3 separate regions of the Homo sapiens genome follow, and all the other regions are linked to region 2. The links come from fine-mapping of genetic effects on gene expression. A gene starts in region 2. Each other region holds a variant in brackets. All regions are shown on one strand. Distances are between the middles of the regions.

Region 1 (4,153 bases), 64 kb after region 2:
AAGGCTGTAAGAATAGTACAGAGAAACCCCTTGTTCCCTTTACTCAAAATGTTTTTCAACATTTAACAAAACATTTTGCCACATTCACTTGTTTATTCTGTTTCCCTCTTTCTTTTTCATTCTCTCTATACGTGTATGTTATTTTTATTTTCCATCTTTTCCTTAATAATCTGAGAGTAGATTGCATAAATCAGGCTCCTTTACTCCTTTATATTTCAGTGTGTGTTTTGTAAGAACAAAGAGAGTCTCTCATATAACCATGGTATAGTTACCAAATTCAGAAAATTTGACCTTGATAGAATACTTGTATATAATGTAGTCTATCTTCCAAGTCATCGATCATCTTAATGATGTCCTTTCTAGCATTGTTTCCCTGGAGGTACACGGTCTCATTCAGAGACACCTACTGCATTTAGTTGTCAATTTGTGTTAGTTTTCTTTAACTTGGCATAGTTTCTTTTTCTTTCATTTTTTTTTTTTTTTTGAGATGGAGTCTAACTCTGTCACCCAGGCTGGAGTGCAGTGGCGCCATCTCGGCTCACTGCAACCTCCACCTCCCGGGTTCAAGCGATTCTCCTGCCTCAGCCTCCCGAGTAGCTGGGACTACAGGTGCATGCCACCATGCTCGGCTAATTTTTGTATTTTTAGTAGAGGCGGGGTTTCACCATGTTGGCCAGGCTGGTCTCAAACTCCTGGCCTCATGTGATCTGCCTGCCTCAACCTCCCAAAGTGCTGGGATTACAGGCATGAGCCACCGCCCCTCACCTAATTTGGTATAGTTTCTTAAGCTTTTTGTTTTTCATGATATTGACAATTTTGAAGAATACAAGCCAGTTATTTTATCAAATGTTTCTCAATTTGATTTTGTCTCATGTTTCTCCACTATTATGTTTAGGCTATACATCCCTGGCTAGAATATTATGGAAGTCATGTTGTGTCTCTTGGGGTATCACCTATGAAGGCCTGTCACCCCACCTGCCTCTTGCGGGTAATTATTTTGACCACCTGCCCAAGGTATTGTTCAATTTTTCCACCGTATATTTACTATTTTCTCCCTTGGAGCTAATAAGCAATCTATGGGGAAACACTGGTGCCACGAAGACATCCTACTCCTCATCCAAATTTCTTTTTAAGTTTAGCTTTCACTGATGATTCTTGTCTCAACCAATCTTTGCTATAATGATTGCAGAAACATAATTTTCCAGCTCCACCCCCTCCTTCTGTGTTTATTGTTCAGGATTCTGCTGTCAGGAGGAGACTTCTCTTGTCCTTCATTTTTTTTTTTGTTTTTCTATTTATTATTATCATTTTTTAGAGACTGGGTCTAGTTCTGTTACGTAGGTGGGAGTGCAGTGGCATGATCATAGCTCACTGCAGCCTTGACCTCCTGCGCTCAAGGAATCCTCCTGCCTTAGCCTCCTGAGTAGCTAGGTCTATAGGCTTGTGCCCCACGCCTGGTTATTTTAAATTTTTTTGTAGAGACAAGGCCTTACTATGTTGCCCAGGCTGGTCTCAAACTCTTGGGCTCAAGTGATCCTTCTGCCTCGGCCTCTCAAATTGTTGGGATTACAGGCATGAGCCACTGAGCTTGAGACTGTTTATTTTATGGATTCATTGATTCCTATTATATTTAATGAGTTATAATCCATAGTGTCCTTATTTATTTTGACACTCAAATTGTCCCAGATTTGGGTCATAGGAGCATCTTCAGGCTGGCTCCTGTATCCTTCGGCATGCTCTCCTCTTCTGCTTTGAGGACGTCGTTGATTTCTAGGCCTGTACAATACTCCAGGCTCATCTTGTGCCTTCCCTGTCTCAGCTCTAAGACTGTCGATGTCTCTAACAAGCCCTCGGTCCTAGATCTGGTTGTAGTTGTGTTATTGCCAGTGGGTGTCATTGCTTCTAGGGTGTTTCAGTGGCCAGAGTTGGGATAAATATGTGTGTGTGTTCACATATGCGTAAATAAAACCATACAATAACTATAATATGTATGTGTGTGTATCTATATCTATATATGGTTGTATTATTGGAAATATACATTCATATTGAGATCTCCAATTCTAATTCAATGCAAATGTTCTTCTTTCACCCAGGACTGTCCACATATTTTGCAGAGTCCAAGTAAAATGTAGGACTCCGTTTTCAAAATTTATTCAGTATTTCAAAACAGCAACAGCAGAGCATTAACCCAAATAAAGGGCAAGGGGTCCCTGCCAAACCTGGGGCCCCGCATGATGGCCTTGGTCTCATGCGTGCGAAGCAGGCCTTGCCTCCATTATGCTCACAGGGAGAATGCTGGCTCACAGCATTGACAGCGTAACGCAAGATTGTCTGCGGAATTTGGGGACTATGTGAAAGAAAAAAGCAGAATTTAGAGGTGCTAAATTATAAATCTTTCACCTTTTTTCTCTTGTCATGTTGTTTTTTAAAATTTGCTATTTAATGTTATTCAAAATAAAGAAACAAGTTATTAGCATGAGTTCTACAGTTCGTCCTTATATTGTGCAGTGACAATTTTACATGCAAACATAAGCGCATTTAACTCATAAGTGGGTTCACCACAATCACACAACTGGTATTTCCCAGCTTGTATAGGC[A/C]TATGTATCTTGTTCTTATGAGAACAATGGAGATATTGTACAAAACAAACTCACTGCTTTTATTCACCGCTTGATAACGCTCATGTTCTGCCATTGCTGGCTACCCTGGACGTACGTACTAATGAGTGAGGAAGGTCTGAAAGGAGAAGGAACTGTGGGTTTCACTGGCTTTCCCTTTCCTCACTTCAGCATGTGTACTTGGCTAATACAGGGAAGTAGGAGGTCAGGATGAGGCTCCTTAGTGGTTAGAGTTTCTTAGAACGTCATTGCCTTCTTTCTGCAGTCAGGGCAAGTTCTGGGTCAAACAGAAAGTGCGGTGTCTCGGGGCTGTTGGCGTTCTTACTTACTCACTTGTAGACATAGCACGCTTCCTTTCAGCCCCTTCTACTCACTTGCTGAATTCCCAGCCATCAAGGCAGCAAGCTTCACTTCTCAAACATCAGTTCAAAGATCAAATTACTGGCCGGGTGCAGTGGCTCATGCCTGTAATCTCAGCATTTTGGGAGGCCGAGGCGGGCGGATCACCTGAAGTCAGGAGTTCGAGACCAGCCTGGCCAACATGGTGAAACCCCGTCTCTACTAAAAATACAAAAATTAGCCAGGCATGGTGGCGGGCGCCTGTAGTCCCAGCTACTCGGGAGGCTGAAGCAGGAGAATCGCTTGAACCCGGGAGGCAGAGGTTGCAGTGAGCCGAGATGGTGCCACTGCACTCCAGCCTGGGTGACAGAGCGAGACCCTATCTCAAAAAAAAAAAAAAAAAAAAAAATCAAATTACTAAGAATTTCAAGCTGGCAATGACAGTGTTAAACCATGTGTAGTGTCCTGAGCATGGGGCCCTGTGCGACGGAGCAGTTCTCATGTCCGCTGCTTTTCAAGGATTTTCCTGTCTCCCCTCCCCCACGCCACTTCCATGGTCTGGAAGCCACAGGCAGAGCCCCTAAGGTGGTTATGTTGAGATTAGGTGTGGAATTCTTGGCATCATTTGAAGTTACTCTGTATCCCAGTAATGCTGAAAGCATGTGTGTCTTATTTGTACTTCTTGATAAACTTCTTTTTGGAGATTGCGTAGAGGGTTTTTAATTCAAGTGGCTGCTATTATGCCTCATGCTAGGAACCTTTTTGGGGGTGCTTTTCTATACTATTATAAAAATTATATAAGGCTAGGCACGGTGGCTCATGCCTGTAATCCCAGCACTTGAGGTCAGGAGTTTGAGACCAGCTTGGCCAACATGGAGAAACCCCATCTCTACTAAAAATACAAAAATTAGCCAGGGATGTTTGCGTGCACCTGTAATCCCAGCTACTCAGGAGGCTGAGGCAGGAGAATCACTCGAACGCAGGAGGTGGAGGTTGCAGTGAGCCAAGATTGTGCCACTGCACTCCAGCCTGGGTGACAGAATGATACTCCGTCTCCAAATAAATAAATAAATAGAAATTATATAAATATATTTAATAAAAAAGACTAGTTAACTTTTTTTTTTGTACTGGATCATACATTCACAAATTTCAAACATAAAGAGGTTAAAGAGGCTGGGTGATGTGGCTCATGCCTATAA
Region 2 (4,153 bases):
AGGCCCCCTGGTCCGCTTGCCTCGCCTGTACGTGTGCAAAATCGGTGGGCAAGCAGCGGGCGCGCAGGTGCACCGTCATTCCCCAGGAACCGCGGGCGCTCTTTGCAGGGGTGCAGCCGCTCTCCCCGCGCGCAGCCTACAGCCCTCCCCGACCCCCGCGAACCCCAGGGCGGGAACTCGTCCCGGTGGCGCGGGCGCTCGCTGCCTGCTGTTTCCCTCTTCGGGTCAGCCCACTCTTATTTCAGGAGTGGAGTGGGACTCTCCCCTGGGCGTTTAGGGTGTCGCCTCTGGCATGTGCTCCCACTGCAGAAAACAAGTCCAAATGCAACGCATCGGGTTTCTGAACAGCCGCCAGAGCGCGGAAACCAGACCGTCAGCAAAGCTGTCGCGGGAACAGGGGCTCTGAGAGGGCGGCGCGGGGGGCGGGGTGCCGGAGTGGGGGTCGAGGCGGGAGGGGGAGTGGGGGTCGAGGCGTGGGGGAGGGTGGCGGGGCACAGGCCAGGTGGCCGATGTTGCGCGTTCCGGGGCCCCTCGGCAGGCGGCGGGTCGGGAGGAGTGGAGGCCCGGGTGGGGCGGGCGCGCGGGGCGGGAGCAGCCCCGGTCGCCGCCTGGGCGCGGGCGCCCTCCCTGTGGAGCATGCGGGACGTGAGCGACGTGTGGCAGCCTCTGCGCAGACTTTTCCGCCGCGGTGTAGGTTTCAGCGAGCGCCGCCTTCCCTCCAATCACAGCCCAGCCTCAGCGCTAAGTGTGCACCTCTCTGCAAGGCGGCGCAGCGCTCCCGTACTGAGGCTTCGTTTGCAAAAGTTACATCCGTCCCGGCGCGGGCGGCGGTTCCCCACCAAAAGCAACCCAGATCTTCCCCGCACGCCTCTGACCTGACTGCACGACTGTCACAAGTCGCGAGCTGGTGCAAACTGCGAGGGCCGGGAAAGGAGACGGGGCACGCATGCACCAAAAAGTGGGGAGGCAGAGCTGCAGGGTGTGCAGGATAACGGAGTGAATTTTAGGAGTCTGCCTAATAAGGGGCCGCCCCCAATAGTTTTCCCTCGACTTAGGTAATGAATTGCAGATCGAAATGGGTCTAGTTTTATTCATTCTTCTACTCGGGGCGATAAAGGTTTATTGAATGGTGTACATGGTGAGTGTGAAAACCAGATGCCAGCTGCCCCCAGCCCCAGTCCACTTCAGTCCAGCTCCCCGGGGCTTTCCCGCCCCCTCCTCGTACCCAGCACCGCGGGCCTCTCAAGGTTCCCAGTCTTTGGGCTAGGGGAGGGGAGCAAGGCTCAGTTCAAGTCCAGGTTTCTAAGGGATTCAGCAAAGTGGACAAGGACGAGGTGAGGTGGGAGGATCAGGGAAGCCTCCTCCCCGCGGGTCGCCCGGGTCGTGGCGGGGGATGGGCTCACGGGTATTATCAGGGAGCAGCCTGGCCCATGTCCTTACCTGGACTGCGCCTGCCCCACAGCGCGTGTTAGGAATGCAGAGTATTGGGGCTCCATGGCCCTAAAGGAGCTGCATTGGTAGGATGCACTTTAAGCAGCTTCCCAAGGGATTCGGCTGCGGGGTCCACGGTCTACACTGGGCAGGACTGCGTCTCTGCTCTCCTCCCGGCCAGCACAGTTGAGGTGAGGGGCCGGAATTAGTCGGGGAAGCTGTGCCAGACGTCCCGAGGGGACAACGGGACGAGGGGATAACAGCAGCCAGGACCCTTCAGCAGGGCTGGGCGCGCTCCAGGCCCGGGGCAGGGCGGCGGGAGCTGGTGCACCGCCGTCGCCGGCCCGCAGGGGGAGCTCGCAGGCTGCTTCCCGGCTCGCCCACCCTCCTCCCCACGTGGAAGGGGGCTGGGACCCAAGGAATGCGGCCCGCCCCGAGGCTGACGTACGCGTCTGCGGCCAGCCCGGACTCTTTAAAAGCCGGCGGTGCGCGGGGCATCCCAGCCAAGCCGGAGAGGAGGCGAGCAGCAGGGCCTGGTGGCGAGAGCGCGGCTGTCACTGCGCCCGAGCATCCCAGAGCTTTCCGAGCGGACGAGCCGGCCGTGCCGGGCATCCCCAGCCTCGCTACCCTCGCAGCACACGTCGAGCCCCGCACAGGCGAGGGTCCGGAACTTAGCCCAAAGCACGTTTCCCCTGGCAGCGCAGGAAACGCCCGGCCGCGCGCCGGCGCACGCCCCCCTCTCCTCCTTTGTTCCGGGGGTCGGCGGCCGCTCTCCTGCCAGCGTCGGGATCTCGGCCCCGGGAGGCGGGCCGTCGGGCGCAGCCGCGAAGATGCCGTTGGAACTGACGCAGAGCCGAGTGCAGAAGATCTGGGTGCCCGTGGACCACAGGCCCTCGTTGCCCAGATGTGAGTGCAGCTGCGCGGAGCCGGGTTGCAGGGCGGGCTGCGCCGGGCCGGGCCATTGTGTGGGGCGGCTTTGTGCCGACGCCCCTCTGCGGGGGGCGCGCCCGTGCGGGTCGCGCCGGCGGGGCGGGGCGGAGGCGCGGGCTGCGCGTCCTTGGCCGGGCGGCGGGGGCGCTGTGGCCCTTGTCCCGGTGGCTGCCCCGCCGGCCCGGAAACGGCGAGTGCGCCCGGCCGGGCTGCGTACCCCGAGACGGAGGGACGCGCGCGCCTGGGCAGGCCAGGGAGGGGATCCACATCCTCCGCGATCCCTGTCCTCGACACCCGTCTCGGGCGGCCGTCGCCGGAGCGCAGCCCAGGGACCCGGCCGCTCGCGCCTCCGCCCCTTTTCACCGTCCGGATCTCCTCTCTCTGCATGTTTCCATCTCCTCTCCCGCCTTGCTATGCATTCCTATCCCCTCGCTTCACTTAATAACCTATTTCTCTGTCCTGTTTTCTCTTTCGATATATATGTCTCTGTTTTTCTCTGTTTCTACCTCCTTCCTCTCCCACTGTTTCTTTCTGCTTTTATCTCTTTCTCTCTCCTTCTCTCTCTTCCGTGCATCTCCAGTGCCATGGGGGCGCCCGTGCTGGGGGCGCCAGGAGAGCCACCTGGAGCCACGCCTGTGTCCCCGGCTTTGGGGAGGGTCGGTGGGTTGGTGAGTGCACGGTTGGCGCTGCTCCACGCGCCCCGGGCGCACGCACCCCCCGGTGCTCGGAATTGGCTGGCAGTACCCTGCCCCGCCCCGCCGGTCGCCGCCCCCGCCACCAGCGATCGCTTGGGAGAGGGTTACCTCGAGCTCCACCTCAGCTGCGGAGCGCCGCCGCGGAAAAGGGCGGGTGGGCAGCGCAGAGGGGCGACGCTGCCTCTCCAGGTAATGCGCCCCGGCTCCCATGGGCTGGACAGGGAGCCGCCTGGTGCGGTTTTGCCCAGGTCAGGTCGTAGCCTGAGTAGTGACCGTGGGATCCAGGTGCAAACTCTCGAGGTGGCTTCGGGTCATCCGAAGGCGCCTGAGCGCAGGCGGCTGGCAGGCAGGGTTGCCCGGCTACTACGTTTCTTAGGACGGCCCCCGCGGGACTTGGCAGCTCTCCTGGAGCCCTGCTCGGTCTGAATCACCGGCCTCGTCCAGACCTGCCCCTCTCCCCACACCCACCCCCATGGTGTGCCCTGGGTGGGGACGTCAGCAGATCCACCCTGGTGGACTTCAGGGTTCTGGGGTAGCCCTCAGGAGAGGTCTTGTTCCCCCTCTTTGTGAGGTAGCCCAGGACTGGGGGATGTGGGTGTGTTGCCCAGCCCAGTCAGATGCGCTTGAACTGGGGTGGCCCATGGTTCTCTTGTCTTTGTGTAAAACCTGTAAGTGGAGTGGAATGCAGCTCTTAAATCCCCAGGGAGGTTTGGCCAAGGCCAAATGCAGAAACAACTTTTGCATAAAGCAAGTATTATCTCTATAGCACTTTGTAAACTGCATTGGAGGCTAGTCCCACATATGTAAATACATGTGATTGTATACGAATGCCCACGGGTCTGAGAGGAGTGTCCCGTGACTTCCAGGGCTCTGAGATCTGTTGGCATCAGCTCAGTTGTGATCTTGAGAACTCCAGCGTGCACCAAGGCGTCCTCCCTCCAGGCTTGGATCCTGATCCATTAGACCCCATCAACCTGCACGTCTCACACGCAGTGAGAGATTTGCCTAAGAATCCCTGTCAGAATCATTCAGAGCTGGAGGGTGGGAATTTGGCTAAAGCCAATGGATTAATTCTTTTGTCCCGCCTACTGCTGGTA
Region 3 (4,153 bases), 34 kb before region 2:
GTCTGATACTGAGTCTGTAGTGAGGATGCATAACGGGGTAACCCTTTCTGAGCTCCTGGATTCATTTGCTGAATTAATAGCTTCATACTCTCTGAAGAGAGGAATACTTTAGGAGTCTCTTTTTTGTTTCTGCCACATTTATTAAATTGTCACATTTTAACACATTTTAAGCCATTTTAACATCTCTTGAGAGAAGGTAGGGGCTGTGGAATGTGTATAAAGAGACAATATCTTGTTTTTCTTGGATCCCTAGCTAGCAGATGTGATTACAGTTTCTTATCAAGAACTCAGCCAGAAAATACCAGCCAAACCCTCTTCCTCCATTGGATTATCTGAGGCAGCATTCGTATCTGGTGGCCTCTCTGCTCTGAGCAGTTTGTGGAGCTCCAGAAGATGTCTCTGATGATCCTCTTTTCTTCCTTTCAAGGGATTTCCTAGATTATTCATCCTAAACCTTGGTCTCATTCCTCTCCTACGCCCTTAGGTGTTAAGGAATTGGATATCTATGGAGATAGCCAGCCCAGCCCTAAGCGACACTGTAGAGAAGGTTAAATTTTGTTTCTCTTTGCCTGTTTCTGGTCCTTTGTCCCTTGCTAAGTCCCTAGGTCGTTCCTGCTTTTTTCTAGGTCACATCCTCAGCTTCTTCATCTGCGTCATCTCTAAATGACAGATAGTAGCTCAGTTTGCATTTTAACTGATAGCTGAGATCTTTAACTCCAGAGATGCTATCTAACCATTTAGGGACAGGTTAAATCACATTGTCTTCTTTCCCTAGCCTGCCCCACTCTCCAACCCCAGCATTTTCATACAGAGGGGCAGCTTAGGTAGGGGTGACTAGAGGTAGTGGGAGGCTGGTGGAAGATCATGAGGTAGTGAGTCCTGGAATCCTCCACTTTGCTCCCACTTGCTGAGCGAGGGCCCTGGCCACCCACACTGACCATGCTTGTATTCATCAGCTGTCCTAGAATGTCCTGCCTCAGGCTGGAGGCTGAGGATGCCAGTGAGCGAGGCAGAACGGTGGCTTCAGTCAGCCTTCCTGGGTTCTGATGCCACCTCCACCACTGAGTAGCTGTGTGACCTTGGAGAATTTCCCAAACATCTCTGTGCTTCAGTTCCCTGATGTGTCAGCCTTATGCAGTTGTGAGGATTAACACGAGCAGCTAAGCACAAAAGGCTTCTACATGGCCTGGTAGAAAATCAGGATGCCACCCTGCTGGTGGCCACTGGAAACCCTATTACAATCCAGAGTGCTTCCTAAGTGGGCCTTATTATTCCTGTCTTAAAGGAACTTTCTGCCCAGCAATGACAACTTGGCCATTGCTACGACCATTATGCATGAGTTTAACGGACCAGAAAATGGGATGGGGTGGTCTGCACAGCAGCTGCCCACTCGCAGGTGCCGAGTGTATTTGCAGGTCTGTTTGAGCCCTTACATTCAGGCCTGGGGATGGATGTGGGTGAATGTGCGCGACAGGAGCGAGGCAGCCCCAGTGGTCTGACTTACATTCAAAGCACTTCACGGAATCCATCTGCCCAGACAACCTCCTAAAGTGGTCCTTCGTTGAATGCCTCTCCCGTCTGCCCCCCGAAAAGTTATCTAAAAGTCCCCACTCCTTATGCTTTCTCTTTTTGAGCCAGAGTCTCGCTCTGTCACCCAGGCTGGAGTGCACTGGTCACTGCAACCTCCCCCTGGTTCAAGCAATTATCTTGCCTCAGCCTCCCAAGTAGCTGGGGCTACAGGCATGTGCCACCACGCCCGGCAAATTTTTTGTATTTTTAG[T/A]AGAGACGGGGTCTTGCCATGTTGGCCAGGATGGTCTCGAACTCTTGACCTCAAGTGATCCCCCCGCCTCAGCCTCCCAAAGTGCTGGGATTACAGGCGTGAGCCACCGCGCCCAGTCTTCTTATATTTTCTTGTCACAGTGCATCTGCTTGGGTGGCAGGTGCACCTACCTGGGGGAGAGCACATTTTCTGTTCTTTTCTTAGTCTTACGCAGGGAGGATTGTGATTGGGACTCTGGCGGCTGTGAGCAGGGTAGGGGGTCTTAATTTTAGTGAGCAAGGGGCACGAATGCTCAGACCTGGGCCACCATGGAGTTGTCGGGGTGTGGGTAGGAGACTGGCGTCACCCATAAATGCAGAGTAGACCCACTTCCTCCAGGATATTTGACTGTGATCTTGGGCCATTGTGTCTGTTCCCCAGGCCCTGAGGGTTCTCCTGGGATAAGATGGGTATGAACTTGCTGCGCTGATGGTGAAGGCGGGTGGCTGAGGAACAGGAAGAGTGCGTCCAGTACTGCTTAAGAATTCGGTGATGTATCCTGGGCTCTCTAGAGGCTTACAAACATGTGGAATCTAAAAGTCACTCAGAATTTGGAACTCTCTAAATGTTTATGTCCCAGGGTGAAATCCCAGCCCTGAGCTCTATATATGGGAGTGGCCAGGAGGGTCTGAGCACCGAGGAAGGACTGGCTTCTGCCTGGCTCCCGGTTTTATGTTTCCCTAACATTGTTATGTCTTGGATGTGTATTTCCTTAAACCTTTCCCAGGTTCCTTTTGGTTCTGGGTCTAGGACACTGAGAAGATTGAAACATTGGGAGTGCACTGGCCTTGCTCTCTGGAAAGGCTTTACTTTTCCTCTTGCCTATTTGCAGTTCCCTTAAATTAGTCACATTTTGGGACCCTCTTTTGCATTGAATTTCTGGGACTTCTGTTTGTGGTTATTTTGAAGTGGGGGTGGGAGGACATGCCTGGGCCCACCCCGTGGTTCTTTAATGAAGACGATGGTTTTCCTTTTAAGCAAAAGAACCTTGTTTACCATTAACCAGAACTCTGGAAATAGATATTTAATCCCCAAACAGAGGTGATGGTGTGTCTAGAAGCAATTTAAAGCCTCCATAGCTTGACTAGTCACTTTATCCTGGGCAACTTTTTGGATTGTTTGGTAATCTAGAAACGAGAGAGAACGCTAATTGCTTCAACATTAAAGAAACCCACCTTCTAGACTCACTCGTTCCCCCACCCCTCCTTTATGTTTTCTTTCTTGTTCCTCTAAGAAATGAAATATAGAAGACGAAAATATAAACTGGACTACAGCAGGGTGCAGTGGTGCATGCCTGTAATCCCAGCACTTTGGGAAGGAGGATTGCCTGAGGCCAGGAGTTTGAGACTGGCCTGGGCCACATAGACCTCCTTCCTACAAAAAATTTAAAAAGTATATTTAAACCAGACTAGAAACTTTCAACCACAAAAATCCATGGGGTCATTGAGGTGCAAATGGAAAGACCAGGAGCAAAAGTAGAGGGAGCAAAAGTAGAGGGTGGGGACAGTGTGGAGGTGAGGACAGTATGGAGGTGGGGACAGGGTATGGAGGTGGAGACAATGTATGGAGGTGGAGGCGGTGGCTGAGCAGAGCAGGAAAGCTGCTGGGGGCTGTGAGGAGCTAGGTTTGGCTGGGTGACAGCAAGGGCTGGACAGAAAGTGCTTTCAGAAAAGCCCAAGGATAAAGTCCAAAGAGATTAAAGGTTAAAAAAAAAAGAAAAGCTCAGGAAGAGGAAGATGACAGGTCCCCAGGGGAAATCTGCCTAATCCAGCAGCTGGGAAGACAGGATACCCTCAGGCCCTTCCTTAGGGCAAAAGGATTACTCCGTGCAGGAAGGAAATATTACAAAGTCTTTCTTCTCTATTTTATTATTATTATTTTTTTATGAGACGGAGTTTCGCTCTTGTTGCCCAGGCTGGAGTGCAGTGGTGCAATGGTGCAATGGCGTGTTCTTGGCTCACCGCAACCTCCGTCTCCCGGGTGCAAGTGATTCTCCTGCCCCAGCCTCCCGAGTAGCTGGGATTACAGGCATGCACCACCATGCCACCACGCCTGGCTAATTTTGTATTTTTAGTAGAGACGGGATTTCTCCATGTTGGTCAGGCTAGTCTTGAACTCCCGACCTCAGGTGATCCACCCGCCTCAGCCTCCCAAAGTGCTGGGATTACAGACGTAAGCCACCGGGCCCGGCCCTTCTTCTCTATTTTTAACTCATCTTTTAAAATTGTTCTTTCTTTCTTTTTTTTTTTTTTGGAGACTGTCTCGTTCTGTTGCTCGGGTTGAAGTGCAGTGGCGCGATCTTGGCTCACTGCAGTCTCAACCTCCTGGGCTCAA

The links. PIP is the estimated chance that this variant, and not a neighbour inherited with it, causes the effect. A credible set is the group of variants that fine-mapping cannot tell apart.
Region 1: its variant is the best candidate, but not a certain one, in a credible set for the expression of PFKFB3 in whole blood (TOPMed, PIP 0.82).
Region 3: its variant is the best candidate, but not a certain one, in a credible set for the expression of PFKFB3 in whole blood (TOPMed, PIP 0.51).

What each region holds. Positions count from the first base shown.
Region 1 is chr10:6,264,615-6,268,767 of GRCh38, forward strand. It overlaps a transcript of PFKFB3 not described here. Among named protein-coding and RNA genes, the nearest start is that of LINC02649, 60 kb to the right of the region's middle. The variant A/C (reference allele first, on the strand shown) is at 2,598.
Region 2 is chr10:6,201,000-6,205,152 of GRCh38, forward strand. It overlaps PFKFB3 (6-phosphofructo-2-kinase/fructose-2,6-biphosphatase 3), which reads left to right and starts at 1,933. Exons shown (of 15, transcript NM_004566.4): 1 at 1,933-2,337. The coding sequence starts at 2,262. PFKFB3-AS1 (PFKFB3 antisense RNA 1) reads right to left here and starts at 1,758. Exons shown (of 2, transcript XR_007062045.1): 1 at 1,441-1,758. RefSeq lists enhancers at 1-86, 87-603, 1,158-1,662, 3,402-3,904, silencers at 406-625, 1,656-1,985, 2,036-2,145, 2,266-2,775, 3,006-3,085 and a cis regulatory region at 1,596-2,127.
Region 3 is chr10:6,167,344-6,171,496 of GRCh38, forward strand. It overlaps a transcript of PFKFB3 not described here. Among named protein-coding and RNA genes, the nearest start is that of MIR3155B, 17 kb to the left of the region's middle. The variant T/A (reference allele first, on the strand shown) is at 1,781.